Regions from separate parts of the Homo sapiens genome. Here regions 2, 3 and 4 are each linked to region 1. Evidence: fine-mapped expression QTL. A gene starts in region 1. Each other region holds a variant in brackets. All regions are shown on one strand. Distances are from middle to middle.

The links. PIP is the estimated chance that this variant, and not a neighbour inherited with it, causes the effect.
Region 2: its variant is the best candidate, but not a certain one, in a credible set for the expression of PRICKLE2 in sun-exposed skin (GTEx, PIP 0.78).
Region 3: its variant is the best candidate, but not a certain one, in a credible set for the expression of PRICKLE2 in testis (GTEx, PIP 0.71).
Region 4: its variant is the best candidate, but not a certain one, in a credible set for the expression of PRICKLE2 in stomach (GTEx, PIP 0.54).

The regions. Positions count from the first base shown.
Region 1 is chr3:64,221,286-64,229,199 of GRCh38, reverse strand. PRICKLE2 (prickle planar cell polarity protein 2) reads left to right here and starts at 3,734. Exons shown (of 8, transcript NM_198859.4): 1 at 3,734-4,290. RefSeq lists a silencer at 3,553-3,847.
Region 2 is chr3:64,095,809-64,103,722 of GRCh38, reverse strand. PRICKLE2 (prickle planar cell polarity protein 2) reads left to right here. Exons shown (of 8, transcript NM_198859.4): 8 at 3,798-7,914. The coding sequence ends at 4,672. It overlaps PRICKLE2-AS1 (PRICKLE2 antisense RNA 1), which reads right to left. Exons shown (of 3, transcript NR_045697.1): 3 at 592-6,800. PRICKLE2-AS2 (PRICKLE2 antisense RNA 2) reads right to left here and starts at 253. Exons shown (of 4, transcript NR_046701.1): 1 at 219-253. The variant C/T (reference allele first, on the strand shown) is at 5,982.
Region 3 is chr3:64,165,362-64,173,275 of GRCh38, reverse strand. All of the region lies in intron 2 of PRICKLE2 (prickle planar cell polarity protein 2), which reads left to right. Among named protein-coding and RNA genes, the nearest start is that of PRICKLE2-AS3, 18 kb to the left of the region's middle. The variant C/T (reference allele first, on the strand shown) is at 4,475.
Region 4 is chr3:64,369,710-64,377,623 of GRCh38, reverse strand. No RefSeq gene overlaps it. Among named protein-coding and RNA genes, the nearest start is that of PRICKLE2-DT, 72 kb to the left of the region's middle. The variant T/C (reference allele first, on the strand shown) is at 5,074.

The DNA.
Region 1 (7,914 bases):
CATGTTGCTGCTGTTTTGCTGTCTTGTGTCCATGCAGATGTCTCTTAATTATGCATTTGTGTTCATAATTTTCCTTCCTACTCATGTTCTTATTCCTGCCTGGAACACCTCTAGCAGAAGGTGAATTTGACTAAGGTCAAATTTTTGCAGCCTTTTTCTACTTCTGGATTTTGTGTCATGCTTAGTAAGGCCTTCCCCCACTATAAAATTGTTTTTTAATTCCAAAAAAGTAAAAGCGTTTTTGACCTTGGGCCTGACCCAGATCATACTTTTCCTGGTTCCTGATCACCTCTGCCATAATTAATTTTGTCTTCCTTGTCCTTTTTCCTATATACTATATGCAATTATGGTCATTTGTATAAATATCCTATCATTCTACCTAAACAGAAAGTTCTGAAGGTCGACAGTTGCATCCTTGTCTCCTGACAAGAGTGTCCTCCGCTTCACAAATCCCTAATAAACATTTGGTTGAGTTTCTCATATGTATTACCTGTTCTTCCCTGCCTTTACTCGCATGAAGTTTGCTGTCATGAATGTGGAATTTCACTGTTTTTTAGAAAAACAATATGAGTTTTGTTCCTATTTACTAAGTCTCTGAAATTTTTAAAGTAGTTTTTTCTCACTTTTTCTAATACCTACCAGTATAATTTGTAAAAAAAAAAACACCTCATTAGAATGGTCTCCAGGATGAAAATAATGACCACAGGGAATTAACAATCTGTGGATTTTGTAATTTTAATATTCTGTGTAAGTGTGATGCATAGATATCCAGCTTCCTCATCACCAAGCTGAGCTCACAGAGCGTGTGCTGGCAAAAGGACTTGGGCAGCATGCTTTTGTGCCATCCCTCTCTTGAATGCAATTAGGCCTTTGAGGACTCTGCATGCCTCCTGCCATAACACACACCCCATTCTACTCTAATTGCCTACTTAATTGTCTTCTCTCTGATTGCCAAGCTCTTTTAAGGCAGGATCCATGTGTATCTTGGTCACCATGTTGTCCCCAGACCCTAGCACAGTGACTGGCAAATAGTAGGAGCTTATTTAATGAGTGAATGGATATATGAATGAATGGGTGAAGCATGTATTCATCTCAAAAATATAGTTGTCTTGTCCTGGTGTATAGTTTCAGAAGAGGGAGCCCGCCTCTTGGTCATTTTTACTCCTTTATTTCCTAGATTCATAGCAGTTCAAAGCATTTGTATTGTATCATATGGAAAATGGCATATCAGTGGCTCACCCACATTAGATAGAACTTTGAGATATGCTCTAGGAATAAAGATGATTTTGCAGTCTTCCCTTTACCGCTTTCTCCCCACCTTTTGAATTTTAACTGGTTACTTAACTAATTTGCGCTGAAGTTAATGGTGGAAGCATGATTGTTTCTATTAATATTACCAATAGCTAACACTTATTGAGTGTTTGCTATGTAACAGGCTCAGTGTTAAATGATTCACATTAATGCTCATTGGATTCTCCCAATGGCCCCATGCAGGTAGGCACTATCATTATGCCCTAGGTTACATATAAGGACCTCAGGCCTCAAGTCATAGACCTAGCAAGTGTCACAGCCAGAGTCTGACCCCAGGCAATCCATTTTAGACTCCATGTTATGATGTTAATTCTTATGAAGTTGGTAGTGATGTGTCACATCTGTTCCAGGTGAAGAGTAATCTCTTGCTATGTTTCAGCTGTCTTCTTTATTTCATTGTTGATCACCTGTGAATTGCCTCTTATATGACCATGCTGATCATGAGTAGATGAGAGAGTAGTGTACCCATTTTTAAGAAACTGAGGCATGGAAAGTTGAAGTGACTTGTTCGTGGCCACACTGGGTTAGAATGTCACTGCTTCCACTTGGCTACTGGGGGCCCCAAACTGTTAGACTTGCTAATTGACTTTTTGAAGGATATTGAGGTCTGGGGAGACCATCTGCCTCCCTACACGCTCTGAGTTCTGTGTGATGGAAACTGAAGGCTGAGTGTTATTCATTTGCTTGTATTTTATTTCTCTTACTGAGAAGTTATTCCAGGTCTCATGATTTTCACCATGAAAGGTCTTCTGGGAACTAGAGAGAAGCATTCTGAAAGAAGTTATTAAGCATTATTAATACAATTACATACAACAAAAGACATAATTTAACTTCCCCACATCCAACAAAGAAATTCATTTGAAGCTTCAGGAACTGCAGCTGGAAGGGCAGAGCTCATCAGAGTGGGTTCCCCAGGCGGGGGAGTGTGGGCAAGGAGCCGTGCTAGCTGCTTTGTCCTTTGGGACACTTCTGTGCATGATGGAATATTCCTCCCTCCCAGCCTCCCCAACCTTTCCCTCACCCTTTACTTTCACTCACAGTGCTTCCTTATCACAGGCACAGAGTCCAGAATATTGCCTGGCTCTTGCCTCTCTCCTGGCCCGGGATACTGCACAGGCAGCATTGAAGGAATATATGATTTTAAACAATTAAAGATGACCATGGAAATACTCAGATGCTAGGAACAGTGATCAGCCTAGTAGATAGTATGCCTCGGTGAATTTTTCTAACTTCATTCAAAATATCAGAAATAGCTATTGAGTATGTGATATTGTGTTAATCTTCACCATAGTTCTATTCAATATTTTACTTTCTTTAATTGCAGTAGCCCATAAGGCCCTTGAAAGCAGAGACTGTGTTTATACCTAGCCTTTAGAGCTGTGCATGGCATAGAGTACGTGCTTAGTAAATATTTATTGAATGAGTGAATGGTACAGATGAGGTTATTGAAGATCCCACAAGTTAAGTTACTTGCCTAAGATCACACTGCTAGCAGGAAGGAAAGGCAGGATTTGAACACAGGGCTCTCCAAATGTATAGATTCCTTTCTTCCAGATTGCTTGGTTAGGCCGCCTAGTGGTGTATAAAAATGGAGCTCGGAGACCCCAAAGGTATTCAACAAAAGCTCTATCTGAGGTCTAGGAAATGTGGATTCTGACCCATCCTTGCTGAAATCCTGGTGTGACTTTAGAAAAGTCCTTTCTCCAGTTGTCTCCATTTTCTAATCTGTAAAATGAGGAGATGGAAGCAATGCTCTCTGAGGGTCTCAGGGTCTTCAGATGCCCTGGGAAGGTTTATGCTTTGTCTTCTTCTGCATGCAGTTGGAATTGGGGTAAGGGGTTAAAGGGCAGCTGACTGACTCACCACCCAAGCACGTGAGGAAAGGAGTCACTTGTGCTTTATTTCGAGGTGCACAAAAACTCAAAGGTGACATAGTCTCAGGCCAAAAAACAAGCAACACCCGAAAATGAAAGTTGAAGAGAGAAGAGAAAGAAAAAAAAAAAGGAGAGGCATTTTTGAAGGCTTGACACAGCATTTAATTAAAAAAAGAGTGCTCTGATTCCACTCCTAGGTTGGTGCAGCATATAATCTGAAACAGGCGCTCAGGTTGATAATTGTGCCCAGATCTGAACCTTGGCACCTAAGAGCACAGCTTTTAAGAAGAAAAAAAATAGGCATGTGTCTTTAAAGCCTCTCTTCTTATATGTGATTTTTTTCATGCTCATTTGGAGGTTACGTAGCTGGGCCTTTGCATCCAGCAAAGGCTTCCTTCCCCTCTCCCTGGCTTGGGGATTATTGATTTGGAAGGCAAGGCTAATTTACATGTAAATAAATCTCAGCACTGGGCAGCAGGATGGGACGTCCAGATGCCGTGACTGACTTGCTGACATCACAGCTTCATTAGCATGCGGAGGATGCAAGCACTGCAACAGCGACTTCTCAGGCACCACCAGCAGCGCCACCGAGAGTTATTATTATTTTTTGACCAAGCAGCACATTTCCTGGTTCAGTGGCTTGAGCTCTGTGAGCAGCTGACTAGTCACCCCGGGTCTGGCTCAGGATCAGCTGGTGACGCTGGGCTGGAGTCTATGACTTCTTCCTTCAGATTGTCATGAAGAAGGGGAGTTAAGAGGAAACTGGGGGTCCTCCGGAAGGCGATCTGAGCACTCAGGCTGATCTAGAGGAAGAGTAGAAGTCATACTTTTTTTCTCTTGCTTGGTGAATTCCCCAGCAGAGTCTGGATCCAGCAGTGCTGTTTTCCCTGAGGGAATGTGGAGCAGCTCGGCTTGAGTCTGTTGCCAGCTTCAGGAAGGGTTCAGACTGAAAAGGGGGTTTGAGGAGAAGATGCTTTGGCTGCCTGAGGTCCTGCTTGCGTTCTTAGAAGTCAGATCCAGGGAGAAAGTGAACTGGGACAATTGACAAGCTCCAAGGGTCTGGCAGAAGCTTCCTCCGAGACTGGGCATTTCATCCTCCCTGGAGGTGGGTAAGAAATTTGCTCTAATTCACAAATTAAACAGCAGTATATTTTCTAAGGAGGATGAGAAAGCCAGATCTAGGGCCTTTGCACTGGGGGAGGATATTGGGTCTTCGTTTTCTTGGCCAGGTAGCATTTTTGGTGGCCCTGCGACCCCTTTTGCCTTTTCTATGCTGATTAGAAAGCTCGATTACAAAGTGTTATGTCACAGCTCTAGGGAGTCCTGAAGAAACGCTTAAATCTTGATGCTTAAGAAGAAGCAGCGTTTCTCTAAAAGTGTAGCTTTCTTTAAAAAACCATAATAATATGGGGAAAGGGGCTAACAGACCAAATACCTGATAGCGTTCATGTACAGTAGTCATTTCAACACATGATGTCAGAAACCATTAGGGGATCTGAGGAACAAGGACTCAGCTGAGACTTCCAGGTAAAGAAATGGCTTTCAAATTATTTAGGTTTAATTTTAGACACTGCTTTCAGATTAGAAATGGTGACAGAGCTTCAGAATATGACTGCATAGCCTGGCTGAACACATGATTCGGTTTGCCCTCTATGCTGGGTTTCTTGAGGGAGTGATCATAGTTAGTTCTCCTCACTCTTGGCTTCTCGAAAACCAATCATAGCATTACTAATTTGCCATGGGGGTCTTGCAATGAAATACAGATTTTTAATCCCATGGTTTTTTGTTATGTGGTCTTGGACTATGCTGGGGTCCAGTGGGACTTTTATGAATCATAAATAATCCAGGCTGGGCCAAATCACACTGAGGTTAGCGATCCATACCAGATGTGATGCCATCCGCTGGTCCAAATGTGGCTCTTGTCTAACTTAGGCACATAGATTATTTCCCCAGTGAGAGAGTTCTGCTTCCCATATCAATGCATGTATGAGCACAGTCAGGGGAGGGCTCCAGTGTGCCATGAATATGTAGACATAGACTGCCGTGTACTGAATCTGCAGCTGGTAAGGCTGTGATTTGCTTTGCCTGCACATCTCTTCCCAAAGAGTGTTTTAAACCATCTCAGTGAGACTTAAACTAAATGAAGCAGCCTTGCCTCTTTGCTAGAGGCCAAATTGGCTGCTGTAATCCTGCTCCTCAGAAGGCTTACTGCCTGCTGATGGCTTTCACAGATGGGTCAGGATGAGGGTCCCCAAGGGCTCCAGAGTAAGTCACAACTTTGACATAATTACCATATTTTGGAAATTTGGATTTTAATGCCTTGAGTGCTTATAAAGGTTTTGCCTTTCCATCAAATGCTCCTTCCCCTTGGGAATTCTGTTTTTCATGTGAAAATTAAAACATACTGGCTCCATCGGGCATCTCAGTCTATAAAGATTCACGGGGCAGCCAGAAAGAGTAAAATAGCATTGTTTGAAATGGTGTGTTTATAAAGATTTACCCATGAAATGTGAGGGAATAAAATAGAAATAGAGGAAGAAAGATGCATTTATGGAAGCTTAAAGAATGAGAAGGGAACTTAGAGGTTAGATAGTATGAGATGATATTTATCCAGGGCTCAGACTCTGGAGCTGGAAAGAGCTGAAGATACTTAAAGCTACCCATTCCTGCCAGTAAAGTGGAGAGAGCAATGGAATCTATAGTTAGGGTGATAGGTGTAAGGATTTAATGAGATGACCTATGCAGAGCACAGTGGCAGCCACATAGTAAATATTCAGTAAATATTAGCTGCTATTGTTGTTGTTGTTGTTGTCATTGTTACCATTTTGTCATTATCATTATAAGTGTTGTTGCTAAAAAACAGTATTGAAAAGGCAACATGTTCACATCCATTTGCCTGCAGAAAGGTTTTGCTAGCAGAAAAGATGCCATCTCTGGTACTGTTATATCCAAATGATTCCCACTCAAAGAAACTTTCCACCCTATTGATTGAGTTGACAGAATAAAGTATATTATCCAGAACTACTGTATTTCACAGAACTGAAAGTGACCAGCTGGTATAATGAAAATCATTTAGAACTAACTGGGGCTTAGGCAGCCTTAAAGAAGGCATCCTGTTTTGGCAGCTGACAAGTCACATGTAGAAAGCTGCGGGGTCCCAGTTGGAATCAATGCATTTCTAGATTTCTCTTCTGCTTCACCTATGCATGTGAGAGACAGTCCTTTTCTTTCTTAATTCTTTTCAGTGCAGATATTGAGCATTTTCTTCTCTATCCAGGGAGGCCATTGAATATGTGCTTAACCTGCTGGTTGGCTCCTCAGAAGTTCCAAGGCTGAATTTTTGCCACCATCTGGGTGCCTTCAGCTTATGGGTTGGCTGCTAAGGGAAAGGAATAGCCCTCCCCTGCCTGCCTGCCTACCATGGCCCAGTCTGTCTGCTTTTGTTTTGTGTCACTGCTATGGCACAATTTTGCCAGGCTCGTGGTCTGCCTCCTTCATGCCGGTGGGCCTACTTCTGTCACACAAGTGGACTGCTGTTTCTCCCTTTCCTCCCAAGATCTTTCTTTTTAATTTTGGGGAATTAGAACTCTGACACAGGGATCTGAAAGACAAAAGTGAATTACAAGAGTGAGAGGAGTCTGCCATAAAATTCTTTCCCAAGAAACTCGGAACTGGGAGTTGGTCGTTCCTGGTTGCTACTGATCTTTAGTAGAGTTGTGTTTTGCACGGAGAATAATATTTATACCTTAACCACAGCCCACCTCCCTTACTTCCTGATGGGAGGTATGATCTCAGGAGAGTTGCCTGACCTCTCTGAACTTTGGCTTCCTCATATGAATATTGGAAATAAAGTCCCCTGAATGCATGGGATTGCTGTGAAGATAGCGGCTATAATGCCCTTGCCCAATTCCTGGTACTGACTGGATGTTGAGCATATTTCCCAGTTAATCCCGATCTGTGAACAACAGGGGGCAGTAATTTTAATATTTATTTAACGGAGAAACTGAAGGCCAATAGAATTAAATTAGAAATCAATAACAACAAGGTATTTGGGAAATCCAAGTAAAATGACATAGCAGATGACAAACCGTGGTACCCGTCTAGTGCTTCTTTTAATAAACATCAGTTCCAAACACTCTGAATTTGAGAAGGGCTCAATGACCCAACTGCACTGCCTGCCTCGAATTAGCAGAAACCTCTTTATTTAGTAGCCCCCAGGCTGTGGTCATTTCTTCTGTGCTGTCTGTAAGCACACAAGAGTCAAAAGGCTCTGTCCCTCAGATAGGAATTCTGGGTGGCAATTGGATAAAGACTTTCTTTTGTGCTTAAAGATCCACTGAAACCTTTCTCTGTTCATTCCCTCCATGACTGTGGTGCTTATAAACAGGGAACTGCTGGTGACCATGAGCTATTTGCAAACTAAGAAGCTTGAGGATGAGATATTGGCCAAATCTGTTTTCTTTGTTGATGCTTTTGAGTGACATTTGCCCCTTTGCTCTGTCTTAACCTGTAAACATTTAAAATGAAATGTTCTGGTTTTTATGCTGTGTGTGTGCGTGTGTGTGTGTGTGTGTGTGTGTGTGTGTGTGTGTGTATGAATCAAGCAGGGGTGAAGATCTCTTTTGGGGATTGAGTCAGTCGAGTTTGGAGACTTCGTTTTCTTTTTTCTTTGGCCTATTGTCTGAGCAGTTTATTATTTGGCATCTGAAAACCATAGGCTTGCTTGTTG
Region 2 (7,914 bases), 130 kb after region 1:
CAGGCATGAGCCACCACACCTGGCCAAACGTTGCTTTACTTTTACTCCATTTTATTGAGATATAATTTACACAGAATAAAGCAAACCAATATTAAAACTACATCTCAGTGAATTTTTACACATGTGTATTGTTTTACAGCCACCATCCAGATTTAGTTATAGAACAATTGCAGTGCCCTAGAAGCCTTCTTCATACCCCCTCCTCCCACTGCCCTGACCTGTATCACTATAGATAGCCTCAGCCTGTTCTTGAACTTCATATAAATGGAATCATACAGCACATATTCTTTTTGCATGTCCAAGCATTTTCTATGAGATACATCCATGTTCTTGGGTGTAGTTATTCGTTCTCATTATTGTGTAATATTCCATTTTATCAGGGTTTCTTCTGAGACTGTTGACAGTTTGGTTTGGAAAATTCTGTGTGGAGGCAAGGAAGCCATCCTTCACACTGTAGGATGTTTAGCAACATCTCTGGCCTCTACCTACTAGACGCCAGGAGAATCCCATCCTAATAGTGACAACCAAAAATGTGTCCAGATGTTTCCAAATTTCCTTCAGAATTAAAAACCATCATATCAGATGAATATATTCTAATGTTAAAGAAACTTTTTATTTGGAAATAATTTCAGACTTAAAAAAAGTTATAAAAATAGAACAAACAACACCTGTAATGTACTCTTTACGTAGATTGATCCATTGTTAACCTTTTGCCACATTTGTTCTTTCATGTTCACATGCATGCACACACACGCACACACACACACATTTTATTTATAAACCATTTGAGAGCAAATTGCATCCATCTGGGCCATTTACCACCATATCCTTCCATATATATTTCCCAAGAGTAAAGATCTTCTCCCACATTATCACCATTATTAATTGACCACAGTAAATTTAGCATAATACTTTTATCTATTGCCCATGTTCCATTTTTTTTTCAGTTGACCAAAAGTTATCCTTTATAGAGGCAGTCCCCAACCTTTTTGGCACCAGGGACCGGTTTTATGGAAGATAATTTTTCCACAGACTGGGGCCAGGGGGTGGGGATGGCTTTGGGATGGTTCAAGTGCATTACATTTATTATGTACTTTATTTCTATTATTACTACATTGTAATATATACTGAAATAATTACACAACTCACTTTAAGGTAGAGTCAGTGGGAGACCTGAGCTTGTTTTCCTGCAACTAGACAGTCCCATCTAGGGGTAATGGGAGACAGTTATGGATCATCAGGCATGAGATTCTCGTAAGGAGCACACAACCTAGATCCTGCATGAGCAGTTCACAACAGGGTTTACACTCCTATGAGAGTCTAATGCTGCTGCTGATCTGTCAGGAGGCAGAGGTCAGGCAGTAGTTGGAGCAATGGGGAGTGGCTGTACATGCAGATGAAGCTTCCCTTACTGACCACTCACCTCCTTCTGTGTGGCCCTGCTCCTAACCAGTCTGTAGCCTGAGGTCTGGGAACCCCTACTTTATAGCATTTAGTTTCCCTAAAGAGCAGGTTCCAGTCCAGGATCAGGTATTATATGTAATTGCCATGTTTCCCTCGTACCCTTTCATCTAGAACATTCTCTCAGTCTTGTCTGGTCTTAAGACTACAGTCCCTTTTTTCATAACAAATGTCCCTCCTTTTGGCATCTGTCTAATGTTTCCTCCTGAATGCATTCGGGTAATACATTCTTGACTGGAATACTACATAAGGGATAGTGTGCCCTTCTGAGTACATCTCAACTGGAGGCATGCAGGGTGCAGTTGCATCTCACCAGGGATGTTAAGTTTGAACTTAAGGTCAAGGTGTTGTCTGATTTTACCTTTGTTTAGTTACTAATTCTTCCCTTGCAACTAATAAGCAATGTGTAGGGAAACACTTTAAAACAATGCTCTCCCCCATCAAATTTTACCCCCTAAATTTAGCACACTTTTTGATTCTTGTGTGAAGCACTCTACCTCCAATGGTTATAAAATGACTTTCCAAATCTGGCACCCCCTTCCTTCTTGTGAACTTACTCTACTGACAGCGGTTGGCATTCCACTATACATAGAGCCCTCTCTTTTCCCTGTTTGTGTATTTATTTATGTTTTTATTTATCTGCTATCAGCATGGACTTGTGAATTCCTATTTGTTTCAGTGGTTTATAAATCATTACTTCACTTAAATATTTGAGTGCTCAAATTGTTCAGATTTGGCCAGTGGGGGCCCCTTCAAGTTAGGCCCTGTGTCCTTCTGACAAACCCCTGCCATATCTTATTTTTAATACTTTCTCACTTTATGGCATAACAAGATCCTGGTTCTTTTAATTTCCTTGCCTTTATCCTGGAATTGGCCATCTTTCTAAAGAGCCTGGATTCCTTTTAGTGGGGAATGGTAGAAAAAACCACAATATATTTATCCATTTTCCTGATAATTGACATTTGAGTTGTTTCCGTTTCTGGGCTATTACAAGAAAGCTTCTCTGAGTACCCTTGTCCATTTCTTGGACCTTCTTACTAACTTCTGATGAATATATAATCAAGAGTGAAGATGGAGAATTGTGGAATTTCTACTCTTGGTCGTACACCCAACAGAAATTCATAAGTCCACAAAAAATGGCCAAGGATATTCAGAGCGGCTTTATTTATAATTCATATACGTATATGTGTATTTAGCTTTAGTAAATATTGCCAAGTAATTTTGCAAAGTGCTCGTAACACTGCTTTAGGTTTTGTCACGGAAGAGGAAGTTGGAGGCCCCAGTAGGAGACAGGAATAATCAGTAGCAGGGGTGATAATGGGCCATTGCAATCCAAAGGCATGTTGTCTATGACCAGGAATGGCAAATTGCTGATCCTTGCAATATGTAATGAGTGGAAAATGCTGAGACTTTGCCACCTGGCCCATTCTTAAACATCTCCTTAGAGAGCTCTGCCTGAAAATGAGCAAAATGGAAGTTACTGCAGTCAGTATCTCCCACTACCTTCAAAATGGTTTTCATCTCAGGGATGCCAAGAGCTCATTTGACAGCAGTTAAGAAATGGAGGTCCATTGCTGGGGCACCCACTGTTTGAGAGCATCAAACCCACTGCTTTACTTTTGAAAGTCCCTCCCCGTGCGACCGAGAGGTCCCTTGGGGTCCCACACACATCTTCTGGCTGCTAGAGACCCATTTACAACCTTGGAGCATTCACTGAATGGTCTGAGAGAGTAAATATTTCTCTATCTATATCTAGGGAGTCACTTAGTGTCCAAGACACTTTTGATAGGGAGCCACCTGCCACTTAGGGACAGCAGGCAAAGCAGGAAACTGCTGCGGGCTAACAGAGAAGTGAACTGGCCCAATATTGTGGAACCAGTGTTTGGTATTGCCAGAAACAGCTTGGGCATGATCCAGCCTCTAGAGCTTAAAGTTTGCTCATCCAAAATATCTGTCCTACAGAGCTTATAGTGCATGATTAGAATCAAAAATGTAATTAAAGTACTTTGCAAAGTGAAACTCCAAATAGAGGAAGCATCATACATAGGATACACAGTGGGCTCTTAGTAACTTTGATGAGCCTTTGGAGGAACTAGTAACTGGTAAAATACATCTCTGGAAGCATTTTAAGTAAGTGCCCCCTCTAGGTAGATAGTGACCTACTGTGGAGTGGAGAGAACCCCCTCACAGGCACATGTGCCCCCTGAGAGGGCCTTTGTGCAGTACACAACTTCACAACGGTATATAATGACCCTAGATAGATGACCAGCAGTGACAGTGATACCCATTGCTGCACATCTGTATTAATCTCTGTGGTCCCCTCCTCTCTTCCCCAGGCCTCTCTGCTGATGGTGGTGCCAAGCGCCAGGAGCACCTATCCCGATTTTCCATGCCTGACCTCAGCAAAGACTCTGGAATGAATGTGTCTGAGAAGCTGAGCAACATGGGCACTCTTAACTCGTCCATGCAGTTCCGGAGCGCAGAGTCAGTTCGCAGCCTGCTCTCTGCCCAGCAGTACCAGGAGATGGAGGGAAACCTCCACCAGCTCAGCAACCCCATTGGCTACAGAGACCTGCAGTCCCACGGAAGGATGCATCAGAGCTTTGATTTTGATGGAGGGATGGCGGGCAGCAAGCTGCCAGGGCAGGAGGGCGTGAGGATCCAGCCCATGAGTGAACGCACCCGGAGAAGAGCTACTTCACGCGACGACAACCGCCGTTTCCGACCTCACAGGTCCAGGCGTTCCCGACGCTCTCGCTCCGACAACGCCCTCCACCTGGCCAGCGAACGCGAGGCCATCTCCCGGTTAAAAGATAGGCCCCCTCTGAGAGCCAGGGAGGACTATGACCAATTTATGCGCCAGCGGAGCTTCCAGGAGAGCATGGGGCATGGGTCCCGGAGGGACCTGTACGGCCAGTGCCCTAGGACTGTGTCGGACCTGGCTTTGCAGAATGCCTTTGGGGACCGCTGGGGACCCTACTTCGCCGAGTATGATTGGTGTTCCACCTGCTCCTCCTCTTCAGAGTCTGACAACGAGGGCTATTTCCTAGGAGAACCCATCCCCCAGCCAGCGCGCCTGCGATACGTCACAAGCGATGAGCTGCTGCACAAATACAGCTCCTACGGCCTCCCCAAATCTTCCACATTAGGTGGCAGAGGACAGTTGCACAGCAGGAAAAGACAGAAGAGCAAAAACTGTATCATTTCTTAATATGATTGGGATCAGGGAATGGGAGAAGATGGGAGCTAAGAATGTAAAGTCAGAAACTTGCACTGTTTTAAATGTTAAAGCGCTTTTGGGGGTGGCTTATGGGGGAGAAAAGGGAAAATGCTGTCAGTAGATGGAGGCAAGGTTACAGGTTGACTCAATAGGTAGTCACAGTTCTTGGCATGTTGAATATTATTTGCACATTTCACTTTGGAAACACAGTAGACTCTATCGAGGCCAGGCTTGGTCACTTCCTTCCCATCAGTTCTGTGTTGAGTTGCCATCTCTCAAGATGGTAAATTGTTTCCTGCTCGCTTTTATCCTCTCTGGTTCTCTTACTTTTAGGACCCTTTTTTCAGTAAGTAATTTGTTTATTAGCCAGGACCCAAGACTAAGTTATTTACATGTCCATTGTAAATGCAATGTAAATGAGAGTTCTGATAAAATATTTTTGTATTTTGTAATATCAAAGGAATTTCTATATCGTAGGACTCAGTGGGGACTTGCATGCACATCCACCATTGTCTCTGAGTAGTATTGAAATGTGGCCCGGTACCACCTTTTTTTTTTTTTTTTTTTTTTCTATACAAATTTGTTACATGTCAGTGAGACCTTTTTCAAAGGAACATATTCAATTTGGCTTTTTGTGGCTGAAAAAACATAACTGTTAGACCCAAAGCATTTTATGCTCCGTTCCATCTTAAGGAGCCATCCTTAAGTCTGCTCCCACCCTCAGTAGAATTTATTTTCTACAAAGTGGTAGTAATTTTTTTTTAAATTGCAAATGTAATTTTTGCCAATTAGAGAAACCAACCGGTGTCAGTAAAATTCTGTGAGAAATGCCATCCCTGCTGGGAATGTTGAAGTTACTTAATGTTGATCTATCCCTTGGGGAAAGTAAAAGTGACTGTGAGTGGTGCCATTGTGTGATGTCAGCATGACGTTGTTTTGAATGTGGCATTATGTTCTGGTGCTCATGTTTCCTGGATTGTATTATCTGCTTTCCTTTACCAAGGCAGACAGAACTGCTGCCTTAGCCTGACAACCGGTTGTCCTCAAAGCAAATGAACTTAAGCATTTGGGATTGAGGGACAGAAGGATTCTGAGGGGGCTCTGCGAGGGACGGTGTGTGACATGTCATGCCTGGAGAAGGAACAAGGCTATTTGAAAACAGAAGGCAGGTCAAGGGTAGAAGTTAAAGGAGAATCTGAAGGCAGGTCAGGGAAAAGAAGAACTGGAAATGAAACAGAGGACAGGTGACAACCACCTCGAAGAGCTCCCAGAGATTGTAGAAAGAGTCCAGTGTAACCAG[C/T]TTAGTAACCAGAGTATCTGGATTACCCAGGAAGGTTGAGCTGCTGAGATTTCAGTGGTGCAATGTCTTTAAAAAAACAGGCTTTGTTGGGAGGGTATTTCCATTTTGAACTTTGAGGACTGTTGGTCAGAAAATGGGCTCAAAAGTGAGTTTGCTTAATGAAGACATTTAACGGTTGTGCTGTTTATAGTAAAATAAAACTCCCTACCTTGCTTCAGTTAAAAATGAAGCACTTGGTTTCTTCCATCCTCCTCCTCCCCTTAATGGATTGTGGCAGTTGAAATAATCCATCGGATGACCCACCTGTAGTGAGATGTACTGTCGATGTAGTGCCCGGTGTATCTCAGTGGCCATCTGCCATGGTGAGGTGAGCGTGATCTCTTTTCAGTATAGTAGTTAACATTTTCTAGTATTTTTTATGGAGAGAATGTCAAAAGTGGCATTTCAGACCCCGTCCCAGATGGGTCTGAGGAAAGGAAGGCTGTAAAGGACATGGTAATGGCACTCCATTCGGGATGTATTAAAATAATTTGCTTTTCAGGTATTAATATGACATTTGTCATTGTCACTGATTTTTTTAAAAAAGCAATGCACATGTTGGTTGTGGCTGTTTTCCGCATGCTATCTTCATATCTAAATGCTTCATTAATTATCCGAGCCTCCGGAGAATTAACTCTATTACGTTTGTATAGTAAGTTTGTAAACTGCTTGGCAAACTGATTAAGAAATAATTTGCAATACCGTGCTACTAAAGTGGCAGGTTTCTGGTAGAAATTGTGCGAGTCCAATTTGGAGTTTTAAGTTCCTTGATTGATGAAACTAAAAAGGCAATTTTGGAAAAAGAGAGGGGGAAAAGTAGATCACTTATCTTAGCAAACGGTTGAAAATATGTCTGTCCTCTGTGGCCCCAAATCCAGTGAAAGAAATTCTCCCAGTAAAAGTTGCTTCCTAACTCTGTTTTTCTCAGAATACCTCTTACCTTTCTCAAAGAAAGCTTCAACCACCATCATCAGAAAGAAGGTGGCCTAAAAACTGACACATGGCCAGTGCCCGGAGGGGTCTGGAGGCATAAGTCTAGATGCCCAGAGAGCATCCAGGCACTGAACTGCTCAGAGCTTGAGATGAAATGACATACAAGCTTCAGGGTAAAACTGTCTACTAGCAAGATTACCTCCCTCAATTCTACCATTGCAGATTTCTTCTGACCCCAAATGCAACCTTACAGAGAATGCTGAATGAGGAAGGCCAATTCCTTACAATGATGGCAGAACCCCCAAGCGAATGCCCTATTGAGGAGAAGGACATCACTGTATTTGGAATTCTGCCTGCTAGTGATAGCTCACACATCACATCCCAGAATCCCACTCCCAATGCATTATTTCCTGAGGCAAGAACTTAAGGTCCTCACCTAATTCCTCCATCACAACCATTAACTCTTATTGGACAAGCTCCTCCTGTGAGTAGGGCCTGTACTCACTTCCTCTTAGATCATAATTCCATCTTCAAGAGACTGATTTCCAGAATAGTAATCTTTTTCCAGCGTTCTCTCTTCTCCAATGCCCTGGTTGTTATTTTTCCCACCTCTCCTAATATTGATCTTCTTGTCTTTTGGTTAGAACTGCAACTTCGGAGTTGAGTTCATTTCCTATTGCTGCTCAATTCAGTAGCAACATAGCTGGCTTGTTCCCAGACCCAGGAAGTATAAGTCATTGACAGTTTCCTGAGTGGCTCTGCCAATCCATACCACCCTTGGTACTGTGAAAAGGCTTCTTGGCAGCCAGGTGGCATTGAGGATGGTATTCAGGGCGCTTTCCTTCTGTCATATAGTTGTGGGATCTCTACCAAGTGTGAAGGTGAATGAGGTAAGGGAGATCAGAACCATGCTTCCTGGTTTTTCATACATCCAAGGAAGAAGTCCTGGTGTGGGTTGTTT
Region 3 (7,914 bases), 56 kb after region 1:
ATTCATAGTGGGATCACATACCCTATGGAAATTGGCAAATGCTACAAATCAGTACCTAACTTATTTTTTATTGAATCTTTGTAGTGTTTTTGTCTACCTATTATGGCTTTTGCATTATTTTAACTTTGTATTGTAGTCATTTGTCTACTTGTCTTATACCCTCTGCCAAATATAACCTCTTTCCACCTAGGGGTGGTTTCCCATTCATGTGTGTGTTCTTTCCCCACAAGCACTCAACAGTTCCTTACACTTGCGTATCACAGATAACAGAATAGCACAGACTGGGTGGCTTAAACAACAGAAATTTATTTTCTCACAGTTCTGGAGTCCAAAAGCTCAAGATCAAGATGTCAGCAGGGTTGATTTCTGGTGAGGCTTTTCTTCCTGGCTTGCAGATGGCCTTTTCTCTGTGCATGCTCCTGGTTATCTCTTCCTCTTCTTACAAGGACACCAGTCTTATTGAATAGGGCCCCAGCCTTATGACCTCATTTAATCTTAATTACCTCCTTAAAGGCCCTATCTATAAATATAGTCACACATAGGGGTTAGGGATTTGATATGTGAATCACAGGGGGTACACAATTCTGTTTATAACATAGACATTTATGAATTATGCATTAGACTGCTTCAAAGCCAAGAAATATAGAGCCTTCAGCCTGTGCCTCTCTCTTTGTTAGTTACACGATATCATTTGAGCCTCTTATTAATGCTTCAAGGTAGATATTATTGTCCCCAATTTACAGATGGAGATATTAACTTTCTACAAGAGATCAAATAACTTGCCCAACTACATGCAGATGGTAAGTGTTACATCCATTATTGGAACCCAAACAATCTGACTGCAGAGTCCAAACAAGTTACCCCTATAAGAAACTGCCATCCTTCTTTTTTCATACTTATGTATGTGTGTATTTTATCTAAAGGCAGTATTGAAACTGTTGTCAAATGAAGTTAGCAACTGTTGGGGAATTTTTAATAGGGCATATACGCAAATGCGTAGACAATCTGCAAAGGGTGTTTTGATAAAATTGGGATGAGGGAGTCTATTTAAGTGTAGCTTAAGTAGAAAATGTTCAAACCCCAAGTTCTTCCATTTCTGCAACCTTTTCTTTAACACAAGATAAAATAAATGTCAGATAATGCTCCAAACTAAATGGAATGTATTTTCTAACAAAACATTGAAGTTTAATATTCTAAATAAAATAATAAACAGGGTTGGAAAGAGTGGTCATGTGAGAACTAACAGGCATAGGAGCAAAGCAACTCATGTGATTCTGAATTATGGTACCGGCTTAGGGCATAACATAATTATTTTCCTTAGTTTGTTCAAACGAAGTTAACTCAACTTGAAAGAAATTCTCTGGCTTCAAATACAAATGGGTGTCGCTTTTGTCACTTCCTCTGAAATAAACAGTATATTGACAGTTATTCCATGCATCCTTTACTTAGCATCTCCACCCACCCCACAGCACTAATCTTTGGTGAAAAAAGCAAATGCTTTGATGGAATGAAAGAGAAGCTTAATGAGTTTTACTCTGTTTCCTCTTGAAATCTCGCTTGTTTATTCTCTTGCTGTATGTGTCTGTCTAGATCCTCTAATAACCCAGACAGCTAGAAAGGTAAGATTTGAATACAGCATGCATCCATTCAACAAACACTTATTGAGTATCTTGTACATGCCAGACCCTCTTCTGGGGGTATACAGCAAACACAGTCCTAAGTACTCACATTCTAGAGGGAAGAGAAAGTCAACAAACAAATAGATCATTTGTCAACAACTGATAAGTTCTTTGACAAAAAGCAGATGAAGAGTTTATCAGTTTCAGCACTGTTGGCATTTTGATGGGGATCTTTTGCTGTTGGGGCTGACCCATGTATTGTAGGAAGTTTGGCAGCGTCCCTGGCCTCTACCCACTATATGTGCCAAAGCAGCTCCCTCCCCAAGTTGCAATAACAAAAAATGTTTGTAGACATTGTCAAATATCTCTTGGGGGGTATTATTGCCCCCATTTGAGAAGTACTGGGTTGGAAGATAAGGGATAGAGGTGCTAATTTATTAGGATAGTCAAGGAAGGCAGCCAAGGTGGCCCTTGAGCAAAGACTGGAAGAAAGGAGGATGACACCATGTAAATATCTGGGGGAATAACCTTTCAGGCCGAGGGAATGGCTGGTGTAAAGGCCATGAGGTGAAAGGAACAGCAAGGAGGTCATTGTGAGCACAAGACCTGAACAAAAGGAATATGGTAAGAGACAGAGTCAGCCAGGTTGTAAGGAGTGGGGAGGTCATGGTGCTATAGTGAAGACTTTGGCTTTGCATTATAGAGGCATGGGAGATAATCCAGGGTTGTTGTTTTGGGGGTTTTGAGTTTTTTTGTTTTGTATTGTTTTGTTTTGTTTTTTTGAGATAGAATCTCACTCTGTCACCCAGGCTGGAGGGCAGTGGCGCATTCGCCACTCACTGCAGCCTCAACCTCCCAGACTCAAGTGATCCTCCCAGCTCAGCCTCCAGAGTAGCTGAGACCACAGGTGTGCACCACCACAGCCAGGCTGTTTTTTTTTTTTTTTTTTTTTTAATGTTTCTAGAGGCATGGTCTACCTTTGTTTCCCAGGCCAGTCTCGAACTCCTGGGCTCAAGCAATCATCCTCCCTTAGCCTCCCAAAGTGCTGGGATTGCAGGTATGAGCTACTGCACCCAGACCATCCAGGGTTTTGAGCAGAGCAGTGACACACCCTGGTTTATATTCCAATGGAGTTGTTATTGCTGCTGAATAGAGACTCGACTGCAGAGGCACAAAGGTGAAAGCCGGGTCCAGAAGTAGCCACAGCAATAGCTCAGGCGAGCACTTAGTCATAGCTAGACTGGTCCTGCAGGGGTGGTGGAAAATGACTGGATTCTGGATATGTTTTGAACCGACATCCAACAAGAATCACTGTTGAATTAGACATCAAGTGTGAACAAAAGAAAGGAGTCTTTGAAAGAGTCTTCTTTGAAAATACTGCAAATGAGCTTTTATTTCTGATTTTGATCCTAATCCTAGGGGAGTTCAACATGATGGAGACATTGTTTAGGCATTAGGCATTAGACTGTTGTTTCCTAAATTGCTTCCTGAGTAAACCAATTAAAATTATAATGTGGGTCTCCAGGAGAAAAGGGAAGGAGCCAAACTTGGTACAATTTCACCTCTTAAATGCCACTTAACGGCACTTTTCTCCTATTGCTTGGGTAATGAAATTCTGGCAAATAGGGGCAAAATGAACACAGGGGCCCTCATGAGCAGCCCATCCCTATTTACTCACAGCTGTAATGCTACCTGATGGTCCTCCAGGTCCCCATTTGGGAACCACTGTGTACTTTTTTAAAGACCACCACGTGCAGCAAATTCAGGCAGCATCTTTCCCTTCTCTGTACAACCTGCCTTCTGAGATGCTCAGGTGCATTTTAGATATTACCTCCCCGAATTGAGGTAGATTAAACAAGGTTCCAAGCTTCTCAAACTGCAGGTGAGGGGGCACGTGAAATAAAGGATCAGTGTTCGAATTAGTCCCTGGGTTAAGTTGGATTTTATAAAACCTTCCAAATGTATCAGCTCATGTCTGAGATTACACTTCAGGAGGGTTGGCCTTTACCTTGTGTTTGTGTTTGCCTTTTCCTTAAACTAGTGTTTCTCCTGGAGTGGTCTGAGGTGTTAAGAGTGCATAGTTCTGGCCTCCTTTTCAGACCCAGAGGGATGAAAATGGCCATCATCTTTAATAAAGGCCTCAGATGATTCTAAAGTATGCTACTGTTTGAAAACCACTGCTGTATCATTTAGGAATTGCATTCACTTCCTAGCAACAGAGACTGTAAATAAAGAAATAGCTTATTTCTCTCACTCAGAAGTTCAGAGAAACGCAATCCAGGGTTAGTCTGGTGGCTCCATGGTATAAAAATTTTAAAAATTTTTTGAAGTCCAGGCTCATAACTTTCCGTCCTACTATCCTCAGGTTACAGCTTCCATTCCCATTTGTAAGGTTACTTCATGACACAAGATGGCTGCTGGAGCTCTAGCCATTGTGTTTACATTCCAGACAGGAAGCAGGAAGAAGGGGGAATGGGCAAAAAAAGGTCTTGGCTAACAACTGTCTAGCCTCCTTTAAAAGAGCTTCCCAGAAGTCACACCCTTCCGTGTCATTGGCCAGAATGTGTAAGGCCACATGTAGCTACTAAGGAGCTGCAGAAATATTATTCTTAGCTGAGTATATTGATGCTCTCAGTCAAATGAGGGTATTGTTAAGGAAGAAAAAAAAAATGGATATGGCTGGGAAAACTCTGCCACAACTCTCTTACCATCATGCCATGGTGTTGTGGAAAGACTGTAATTTGGAGATTTTTCACTTACTGTCTGTTCATTTTGGCTTTATTTGGGAGCTGTGTGTTGGTTATGTTCTGGGTAATACCAAAGGAAAATGTGTTCATCGTTTCTGTGGTCAGCCA[C/T]GCAGACCTATTGGGAATCTACTGTATCTGGGTATGATTTGGTTTTTTCTTCCTTCTTTCCCATCCATCTGCCAGTCTCTTCAGTCTCTTTTTTTCTTGATAAAGGAGAACAGAAGGAGAGGATGGGGAAGTCAAGCTCAAAGGTGGCTCTCTCACTTTGTAACTATGTGATATTCAATCTGATGAGTATGAAATACCCACCTCCAGAGTGTGCAGAAGGTTTATGAAATACTGTGTATAAAAACGCGTCAAGCCGTAGGGTCACTCAGTAAGTCAATAGTTCGATGACCGCTTCCTTCATTCAGATCAGGCTTGTCCAACCCGTGGTCCACAGGCTGCATGCAGCCCAGGATGGCTTTGAATGCGGCCCAACAGAAATGCACAAACTTTCTTAAAACATTATGAGATTTTTTTTTTGCAATTTTTTAAAGCTCATCAGCTATCATTAGTGTTACTGTATTTTATGTGTGGCTCAAGACAATTCTTCTTCTTCCAGTGTGGCCCAGGGAAGCCAAAATATTGGGCCCCCTCCGCATCTAGATGGTGAAGAACAATTGATTCTGAAATCGGCCAAGAAAGTCTAACTTCTCCTTTGTGGGTTCCTGCTCTAAGAAAATAAGGATGCTTTTGATAAGGAAAATGTTGCCACCCAAAAATGTGAGCACTTTGCCCTTAGGATTTCTTGTTCTTGCCAGAGCTGGTAGAATCCCCTGCTGAATCATATATCTAGGTGTGGAAGGAGACACCTGAAAAATTGGGTGAGGTCCAACAAGTTCTCTTCCCTTTTCTGGGCTTCCTAGATCTCTTGAAGAAAGTGGGAATCCTACCATTTGCCTGGCAACTGCATAATGTTGGTTGTTGAGGGAAAACAGTAGAAAGCTCTAAAACTCACAAAGTGTGTTCCCTGGACTAACAGCAGGACCTGAAGAGGAGTCAGAAATGCAAATGTCCCCATCCCGGGCCTACTAAATTAGAAATCTGTGTTTTAACAGGCCTTCCAGGTGATTCTGATGCAAGCTATAGTTTGAGAACCAGTGCTCTAAATAAAGTGCTTTGCACACTTCTTTATAAAAAAAAAATCAGCTTACTTTTCATACACTTTTCTCCCAAATGCAGAGTTATTGCTTCTCCAGCCTCCATCTTTCTGCCCAGGCAGAAATGCTATCAAACGTGCAGTTCCTTCCAACAAGCCTCATCTTTCCAGCTGGGCGAGGCTTTGCTTTGTAGACTTTATATGCGCACTGACTAAAGTGCTTGCGATCTGTCTGACACACACTGAAGTTGCTGCCAAACCTTTCCTGTTGCAGAGTTACACCTTAAAGGCCTTTGGCTATTTCATTTTCATAAGCCAGTTTATTGTGTTCAAAATGCTTTTGTTTAGGGGAAAGTTACCTAGTATGATTTCACCTGGGGTGGAATCACAGGGCACCTTTATCTGGGAATGTCTAAATGGAGCAAAGTCTTTAGCACATTCAACAGACGTGCTTTTGAATAAATATGTTCAATACACACAGAATGAAAAATACAGTTATCAGCATAATGGGTAATAGCTTGGTAATGATCATCATTGACAAAATTCTATTGGATTTGCTTATTTACTCCAAAAAAAATGAACAAGTGAAACATGTTTGGACTAAAATGAACAATCTGCAGGATTTTCAGGGATTGTGCCAAATTTAATTTTTGTAGTGCCAGAAAGTATACTCAGTATTTTCCCATTACCCTTGGTTCACTTGATGTTTGTTTTGGGCCATACAGTAGTTTCACTGTGGAGAATGCCAGAGGAAAATGCAGGCAGCATTCCTGTATCCAGCCAAAGAATTCAGGAGAGCTGTTTCTCCCTCCCTCCCATCCATCCGTTAATCCCCTTTGCTCAGTGAAAAATTTGGAAAGTCCAGCATCTAAACACCAGGAGGCGACACAAAGCTAACATTAGAGGGATGCGTTTTTCTCCTGGACTTCAATGGACTTCGAAGAGGATTGGAAGTCCTGAAAGGACTAAATCATTCTCCTTCCTCAGAGCAAGCCACATCACCTACCATGTGATATGGGAGTGATTTGGTAGGTTGTTAATTAATATTAACTTATTTATTTTAGAAATGGGGCATCTTGCTACCTAGGTAAGTTCTTAAGTCATCCATCAAATTATTAGTTACCTTGTGAGAAGATATTCTAGCATATTGTATATTTGAGGAATTACTGGAATAATTTTGAGTGGTTATCAGTAGGCTTGAATTATAAAAGTTGACAAAAGATGTCCAGGAAAGATAGAGCTGTGTTCCCAAAGAGTAGTCACTGCCTCTGTTGACTTCAGAATTCAGTCTTTAGGATGGATCTCAGCACACCAAGGGACTTATTTACTCCTAAGTTTCTCCAGAGTCCTCCATCACTGCTGGCTGCACCTTCACTCAGTCATGTCATGTTGGGATTCATTTATTCTCCAGTTTTCAAAGTACTGAATGTCTCTAATCTCATTTCTGGGTGTGGACGCTGCCCAAGACAGGGTAATCAGGGTCCTTCTCTGGGGAATTTGGAATTGAGAAAAGCGAGTCACTCTAGGACAGACTCTTGAAGTGATGCTGTGCAAACTCAAGTGCTGTGGGAAACCTTAACCTTTGAGAAGGTGAGAAGCAGATCTGCAGGAAGAGAAGAGAGCAGAGGTAAGAGGACACTGGGCTCAGAGAGAACAGAAACTTGGTACAATCACCTTCCAGTGGCATATTCTATTTCCTCATGAGACCCTTTTATATACATGGCTAAGTTTCTAAAAACAAAAACAAAACAAAACACACACACACACACACACACACACACACACACACACACACACACACACACCTTTATAACAGTTTGCCATTTTTCCCCTGAAGTCAAACTAGCTTTAATACCATTGTATTCCTTGCAACGTATTTTTCTTGCTTTGACTAATATAAGTGGCTTCAGGGTTTGGTCTCACTCTACAAGCCAGCAGTGTTGCTGCCCATTCAAAAGTGGGCCTGATGGGGTGGCTCACACCCGTAATCCCAGCACTTTGGAAGGCCAAGGCAGGAGAATAGCTTGAGCCCAGGAGTTCAAGACCAACTTGGTCAACATAGCAAGACCCTGTCTCTCCAAAATATTTTAAAAATTAGCCAGGCATGGTGGCATGCGCTGGTAGTTCCTGCTACTCTGAGGTGGGAAGAGTGCTTAAGCCCAGGAGGTCAAGGCTACAGTGAGCCATGACCGCGCCACTGTACTCCAGCCTGGGTGACAGAGCAAGACCTAGTCCAGGAAGCATCTGGATTGTTCCATTTAGAGTAGGCCAGGCTTGATAGTATAACTATTGTCATGTATTCGTGTTATTTATTTTTATTAAGAGCCACATGCTTGTGCCTACACTCTCATTTAATCATCACAGTCTTATGATGAGTATTTTGAACAGCCACATAACTTGCTCAGGA
Region 4 (7,914 bases), 150 kb before region 1:
TGTGTATATATGTGTGTATATGCGTATATATACACACATATGTATATACACACACACGTATATCATGTATATACATATATACATGTGTATATACATATATACATGTGTGTATATATATATACACACACACACATAAAAATTGAGTGTTTGAGACAGGGTCTCACTATATTGCCCAGACTTCTCTTTTTTTTTTAAAAAAATTTCATTTTGTTTTTAATTGACAAATAATAACTGTATATATTCATGGGGTACAATGTAATGTTTTGATACATGTGTAGATTGTGCAATGATCAAATCAGGCAAATTAACATATCTGTGACCTCAAATATTTATTTTTTTAAGAACATTTAAAATTCTCTCTTAAATATTTTGAAATAATATTGTATTGCATTATTATTAACTACAGTCACCATGCTGTGCAATAGACCACCAAAGTTATTCTTCCTGTAAAAGTGAAACTTTATACCCTTTGACCAATGCCTCCCCCTTTCTCTGTCTGCTTCCCTCTGCCCCCAGCCTCTATTAACCACCATTCCACTCTCTACTTCTGGAAGTTTGACTTTTTTGAATTCCACATATAAGTGAGATCATACATTATTTGTCTCTTTGTGCCTGGCTTATTTCACTTAGCCTTTAGGTTCATCTGTGTTGTCACAAATGACAGAATTTCCTGCTTTTTAAAGACTAAATAGTATTTCCTTGTGCATGTGTATATATTACATTTTAAAAATCCATTTGTCTATTGGTGGATGCTTTGATTGCTTCCGTATCTTGGTTATTGTGAATAGTGCTACAGTGAACATGGGAGTGCAGACATCTCTTTGACATTTCAATTTCAATTCCTTTGGATGTACACCTAGAAGTGGGATTGCTGGATCATATGGGAATTCTATTTTTAGTATTTTTGAAGAAACTGCATACTGTTTCCAAAATGGCTAATTTACAATACTACCAACAGTGTATAAGAGTTCCCTTTTTTCATATACTTACTCATCAACACTTGATAGCTTTCATCTTTTTGATAATAGCCAATTTAATAGGTGTGAGGTGATAGATCATTGTGATTTTAATCTGCATTTTTCTGATGATATTGAGGATTTTTTCATATATCTGTTGGTCATTTGTATGTCTTCTTTGAGAAATGTCTATTCAGGTCCTTTGACCATTTTTGGATAGGGTTATTTGTTTTCTTGTTATTGAGTAGTTTGAGCACCTTGTAGTATATTTTGGGTATTAGCCCTTTATCCAATGTATGATTTGGCAAATACTTTCTCCTACTCTGTGGGTTGTTTCTTCACTCTGTCGTTTCCTTTACTTTGCAGAAGCTTTTTAGTTTGATGCAATCCCATTTGTCTATTTTGCTTTTGTTGTCTGTGCCTTTGGGGTCATATCTAAGAAATCACTGCCCGGACCAATGTCATGGAGCTGTTCCCCTATGTTTTCTTCTAATAGTTTTACAGTTTTAGGTCTTACATTTAAGTCTTTGATCTATTTTGAGTTAATTTTTTATAAGTGGTGAGATAAGGATCCAGTTTTATTTTTCTGCATGTGGATATCCAGTTTTATCAACACTTATTCCTTTCCCCATTGTCTGCTGTTCTTGGCATCTTTGTTGAAAATTAATTGACTATAAATTTGCTGGTTTATTTCTGAGCTATACATCCTATCGCATTGGTTGATGTACCTTCTTATATGAGTACCATGCTGTTTTGATTACTATAGCTTTGTAATATACTTTGAAATTTGGTAATATGATGCCTCCAGCTTTTTTCTTTTGGTACAAGATGCCTTTGACTATTCAGGATCTTTTGTGGTTCTATATGAATTTTAGGATTGTTTTTTCTATTTCTGTGAAGAATGACATTGACATTTTTGGCACAGATTACATTGAATCTGTAGATTGCTTTGGGTAGTATGTACGTCTTAACAATATTCTTCCAATTTATGAACACACGATATACTCCTATTTATTTGTGTCATCTTTAATTTTTTCCATTGAGGTTTAATAGTTTTCAGTATACAGACCTTTCACCTCCTTAGTTAAATGTACTCCTAAGTTTTGTTTGATGCTATTATAAATAGAATTTTCTTAATTTATTTTTCAGATAGTCTGTTATTAGTGTATAGAGATGTTACTAATTTTTGTAAGTTGATTTTGTATCCTGTAACTTTACTGAGTTCTTTTATCAGTTCTAATAGTTTTTTGGTGGTGTCTTTAGACTTTCTATATATAAGATCATGTCATCAGCAGAAAGAGACAATTTCACTTCTTCTTTTCCTGTTTGGAAGTCTTCTATTTCTTTCTCTTCCCTGATTGTTCTGGCTAGGACTTCCAGTACTATGCTGTCTTTTTGCTTTTGATGGTGGTGGTGATGATAGTGATTGTCATGATGGTGGTAGCTGTAATGAGGGTGGAGGTGGGATGGAGGAAGTTATAATAATAATGGTAGTTATAATGATATTGGTAATAGTGATAGTGGCAGGATGGTGGTTAATATTTTTTGAGTACTTTCTCAGTTCCAGACCTTGCTCTAAGCAGTTATATCTGATGTCTAGTCCTTCTGCTTTGGGCAGAAACCCAAGATTGTTCCTTCCTGGATTGTTCCTTTTTCTCACACATTCCGTAAGACTCTCAGCAAGCTTGGATCAGCTCTGCTTTCAAAACCCAGCTCTATCTTACCTGTGTGGACATGTCCTTTGCTATCACCATAGGTCCAACTACCTCCCTCTTTTACTTTCTTTCTGATAGTGACCTTCTCCCTGGCCTCCCTGCTTCCAGTCTGGCCTCTTATAATCCATTCACACCACAGGCAGTGTGATGTTCTAAAATTATATATCCCCCTTCTACTCAGAACCTTCTGAATGGCTTCCCTTCAAGCTGACAATAAAATCTAAGACCTTATGACCATGGTCTTTAGTCCCCAAATTCCCATTTTACCAGCCTCATGGCCTTCCACTCTCCCCATTGTGTGTTCTGCTGTTGTCAGATATGATCCTTGAGTACACCACATCTTCCAGTTGTGGCTCCTGCCGTTCACATCTTAGCATGGTGTGTTCCCTTGTTTCATTTAGGCTTTCCTCAAATTAGACTTCCTCAAAGAGGACTTCCCTGATCACCCTCTATTAAATAGCAGCCTGCCCTCCCTCATCCCTCACCTTCTATCTATCTCATTTACCCCATTAATAATTTCTTCACAGCACTTAACACTCAGCCATCATATTGTAAAGTTTAATAATATATTAGATCTAGCAGAAAATGTGTCCCTTCTAGAATAAAACTTTGTAAGGACGGGACCTCTCTGAATTATTCATCTTTGTATAATTTTGGTTTAGAACAGTGTCTGGCTCATATTATGGCCTTCCATCATAAGTCTTGGTGGAAAGAATTAACAAAATGGGAGCTTATATGATAAAAAATAACTCTAAGAGTTATAGTTTCCTTTTACAGATGAGGAAACTGAAGCTTAGAAAGATAAATTATGCCCTAGACTTCTGAGAACAAAGCTAAGCACTTCAATTTTTCTGAGAAGCTGATTGTATAGAATCTTGGGTTTATAACTCATTTGAACTTCTCATTCAGAGCTCCAACCCTGGCAGGCCTAACATAATGTTTGCCCAACTATTAAATATATAATCCTTGGCATTTGTTGTGTGCAAGGTATTTTAGATAATTAATTGATGAGGCATTTCTGTCTTATTATGTTTTTTGCTTCAGTAACAGAATAACAGAAGCTGGGTAATATATAATGAGCAGAAATTTATTGGCTCCCATTTCTGGAGCTGAGAAGTTCAAGATCAAGTAAGCAGTGCCTGGCAAAGGCCTTCTTTCTTTGTTATTCCATGATGGAGGGTGGAATGGCAGGAGAGTACTAAAGGAGAGAGACAGAGAAAGAAAGAGATAAAGGGGGCCAAACTCCCCCTTTTATAATGAACCCACTCCTACAATATTGGCATTAATTATTCACTTCACTATCATGGCCTAATCACCTCTCATTAGGCCCTATACCCCAACAGTATCGCATTGAGGATTAAGTTTCCAGTGCATATTTTTGGGGTGCATATTCAAATTATAGTAATTAGTATTCTTTATTTTTTATTTCTTGTAGAGATGAGGTCTAGAACTCCTGGCCTCAAGTGATCCTTCCACTTTGGTCTCCCACAGTGCTGGGATTACATGTGTGAGCCACTGTGTGCAGCACGGCAATTACTATTAAGTCACAGCGAATTTACTGGGATGATATATATATATTTGGCAATGGCATGTTTTAAGTTTTCATTGTATTTTTAACCACTTTGTTGAGATGTAATTCATGTCGTACAGTTTACCAATTTAAATTATATAATTCAATTTTTTTTAGTATATTCACACAGTTGTGCAACTGTCACTACAATTTTAGAATAATTTTATTACCGCTGAAAGAAACCTCCTAATACACAGTAGCAGCTGCTTTCCATTTCACCCTAACTCAAAGCACTGCCCTAGACAACTTCTAATCTACTTTCTGTCTACAGGTTTGCCTTTTCTGATCATTTCTTACAAGTGGAATCATATAATATGTGTTTTTTTTGTGTTTGATTACTTTTAGCAAAATATTTTCAGGATTCTTCTATGTTGTAGCATGTATCAGTACTCCATTCCTATTTATGGTTGAATAATACTCCATTGTATACATATACCACATTTTGTTTATTCACTCATCATTTGATGGACATTTAGATTGTTTTCACATTTTGGCTATTATGAGTAATGTTGTTATGAATATTTGTGTACATATTTTTATGTGGACATGTTTTCAATTCTCTTAGGAATAGACCTAGGGGTAGAATTGCTGGATCTGGCCAGACGCAGTGGCTCACACCTGTAATCCCAGCACTTTGGGAGGCCAAGGCAGGCAGATCACTTGAGGTCAGAAGTTCAAGATCAGCCTGGCAAACATGGTGAAAACCTATCTCTACCAAAAATACAAAAATTAGCCCGGCATGGTGGCACGTGCCTATAGTCCCAGCTACTCAGGAGGCTGAGACACAAGAATGGCTTGGACCCAGGATGTGGAGGTTGCTGTGAGCCAAGAG[T/C]GCACCACTGTACCCGAGCCTGGGCAACAGAGTGAGACTCTGGAAAAAAAAAAAAAAAGAAGAATTGCTAGACCATAAGATAATTCTATCCTTAAGACAGAGGAAGCACCAAACTGTTTTCCAAAGTTGCTGCACCATTTTATATTCTCACCAGCAATGTAACGAGGATTACAGTTTCTCCACATCCTTTTCAACACTTGTTATTATCTGTCTTTTTTTTTTTTTTACTGTATCCCTTTGAGTGTGTGTGCAAGTGAGTTCATTTTTGCATTCCCTTTTTTAACAGAGAAGGTGGGTCCTCAGATCTGTCAGCAGAGAGATTATAGGGTTTAAGGAGAATTTTGACTTTTATTGTATTTTTTTTTATAACAAGTCACTTTCCTGTTACTTTGCCATTTTAAGTTGAGGGCATTAACTTTTTTTAAACAGCTTCTTTGAGATATAATTTACATTCTACACAATTCAGTCATTTAAAGTGTATAATTCAATGCCTTTAATATATTCAGAGTTATATATCCCTCACGGCAATTCTCAAGTATTTTTGTTACTTCAAGAGGAAACCGTGTAACCTTTAACCGTCATCTCCCCCATCCCTCTCCCCCACAGCCCTAGGCAACCGCTAATCTAGTTTCTATCTATAGATTTGCCTGTTCTGGACATTTCATGTAGTTTTTGTAAATGGTCAGTGTCCATTTATAACAATATATATTGTTTTTTCTATGGGAATATAAAGTTTCCTTTTAAAATAAATGTATTATGCTGAGCACGGTGGCTCACCCCTGTAATCCCAGCACTTTGGGAGATGGAGGTAGCAGATCATGAGGTCAGGAGTTTGAGACTAGCCTGGCCAACATGGTGAAACCTCCTCTACTAAAAATATAAAAATTAGCTGGGTGTGGTGGCAGGTGCCTGTTATACCAGCTACTCTGGAGTCTGAGGCAGAAGAATTGGTTGAACCTGGGAGGCGGAGGTTGCAGTGAGCCGAGATAGTGCTACAGCACTCCACCCTGGGTGACAAAGCAAGACTCCGTCTTGAAAAAAAATAAAATAAATGTATTACAATAAAAATTTAATAAGCTTAAACAATAGTAAATACAAATAACAAAGGTGATGTGTATAGACAAGGTTGAAATTGCTACAGTGATTGGTGGTGGGCTACAAGCAGAAGAGATAGCCTCATGGTTGAATGCAAATGGCCAGGATTTGAGAAATGGTAGTTGATAGATCTTGGTCTAGACTGGTCAAGGAAAAGACTTCATCTTCAGACTAGAATGGAGGGAGCCTTGAGTGCCTACTAGGCCCACACATCCTCATTGCCAAAGAACATCTGCCTCTCGGGAGCTGTGTGACCTTATATACATCAGTGTCTCCATTTGCCGATCTAGCCAAATGGGTATGGGTAATAGCAAGATCTACTTCATAGAGCTGTCATAAGGAATAGGTGATTAACATGTGAAGAGCATTTAGCATACTGCCTGACACAAACCAAGTGCTCGCTGAGTGTTAGCTGCTAGCCAATTTCAATCACAGCCAAGGGGAAGCTCTGATCCCTCCCCATGTTCCATCCCATCCCAATTTGATCTCGCAGTCCTGTCTTCTCTCTGCCCATGCTGCTCACCTTTCCAAACAGAGAGTTCTGCTAGAAAAGTACCCCCTTCTGAGAGTGAGGAAAAGCTTTCTTCAGTGGAGAGTATTTGAGTAGCTGCATTGTCCTGCTGAAACATGCCGGCCAGCTTTCAAGCCAGAAACACATTGCCCTTAACCAAGTTTACAAAACCACAGGTTACCTCTTTATGTTTTGGCAAACTGCATCAAATCAAACCCTGAAAGCCAAATTCCATGGGGGAAGAGCGCCTTCGTTATCAGTTTACCAAGGAACCCTTGGACAAGTACACATGTCCTTGTACCCCAGCGTTTGGAACACATCAGTAGACCAGACGCATGATAAATATTTTTTACAAAACCATTCTACAAGCAAGTCGGGATTTAAAAAATGCATTTGTAAAGTGTTTTTCTTCAGTTGGATCAACCATATGTTAAAGTAAGCTTCACCGATGGCAACAGTTTTCATCTGAGGCTTATTTTAGCTTAATAAAAGAGTGTGTGGGTGGTAAGCAGAACCTTGTGCAGAGCTGCTAGAAAATCGCGACTAATGGCTTTTGCCTTTCTGCCTTGTTGATCTAAGATGGCTTGATTTTTGCCTGGGTTGTGGATGGGTGAAGCCAAGTCACCATTTCTGCAGGACTTAAGCTAGGCTCTGGAGAAGCACTCCTTTGGGCACGTGCAGAATGCCCTTGGATATCGGTCCGTCTAATTGCATGTAATTGCTACATTGGCCTCTTCTCTGTTTCTGGAACATCAAGGTTGTTCCAGCCTCAGAGCCCTTGCACTTGCTGACTCTCTTGCCCAGCTGACCATTCCCCTGGCCCTTCACATGGCAGGTGTTTTTAAACCTTCAGGTCTTCTGCTCATACCTCTACCCCACCTCAAGTGCTCTGCCATCTCACTGTTTCCTTTATTACACTTGCCCCCCACCTGAAATTACCTTGCTCATTTGTTTGTTTCCATGTCTGTTGTCCATCTCCCTCTTAGAATGGAAGCTCCATGAAGTCAAAGTCTTCATCTGTCTGATGTGAGGTCATATGGGCAGCACTCAGCTCAGTACCTAGTACACAGTAGGCACTCCTTAAACATCTGCTGAATTTCAATGTATAACTTGGACTTCAAATACAAAGTTTCATAAGTAATGAGATAGGACATGAAGCTTTAAAATAAGTCTTGAGCTAGAAAGGCTGCTTAAATACTTTAAACGCCTGTGTGCTGAACTTTTCAGTGTTTCCT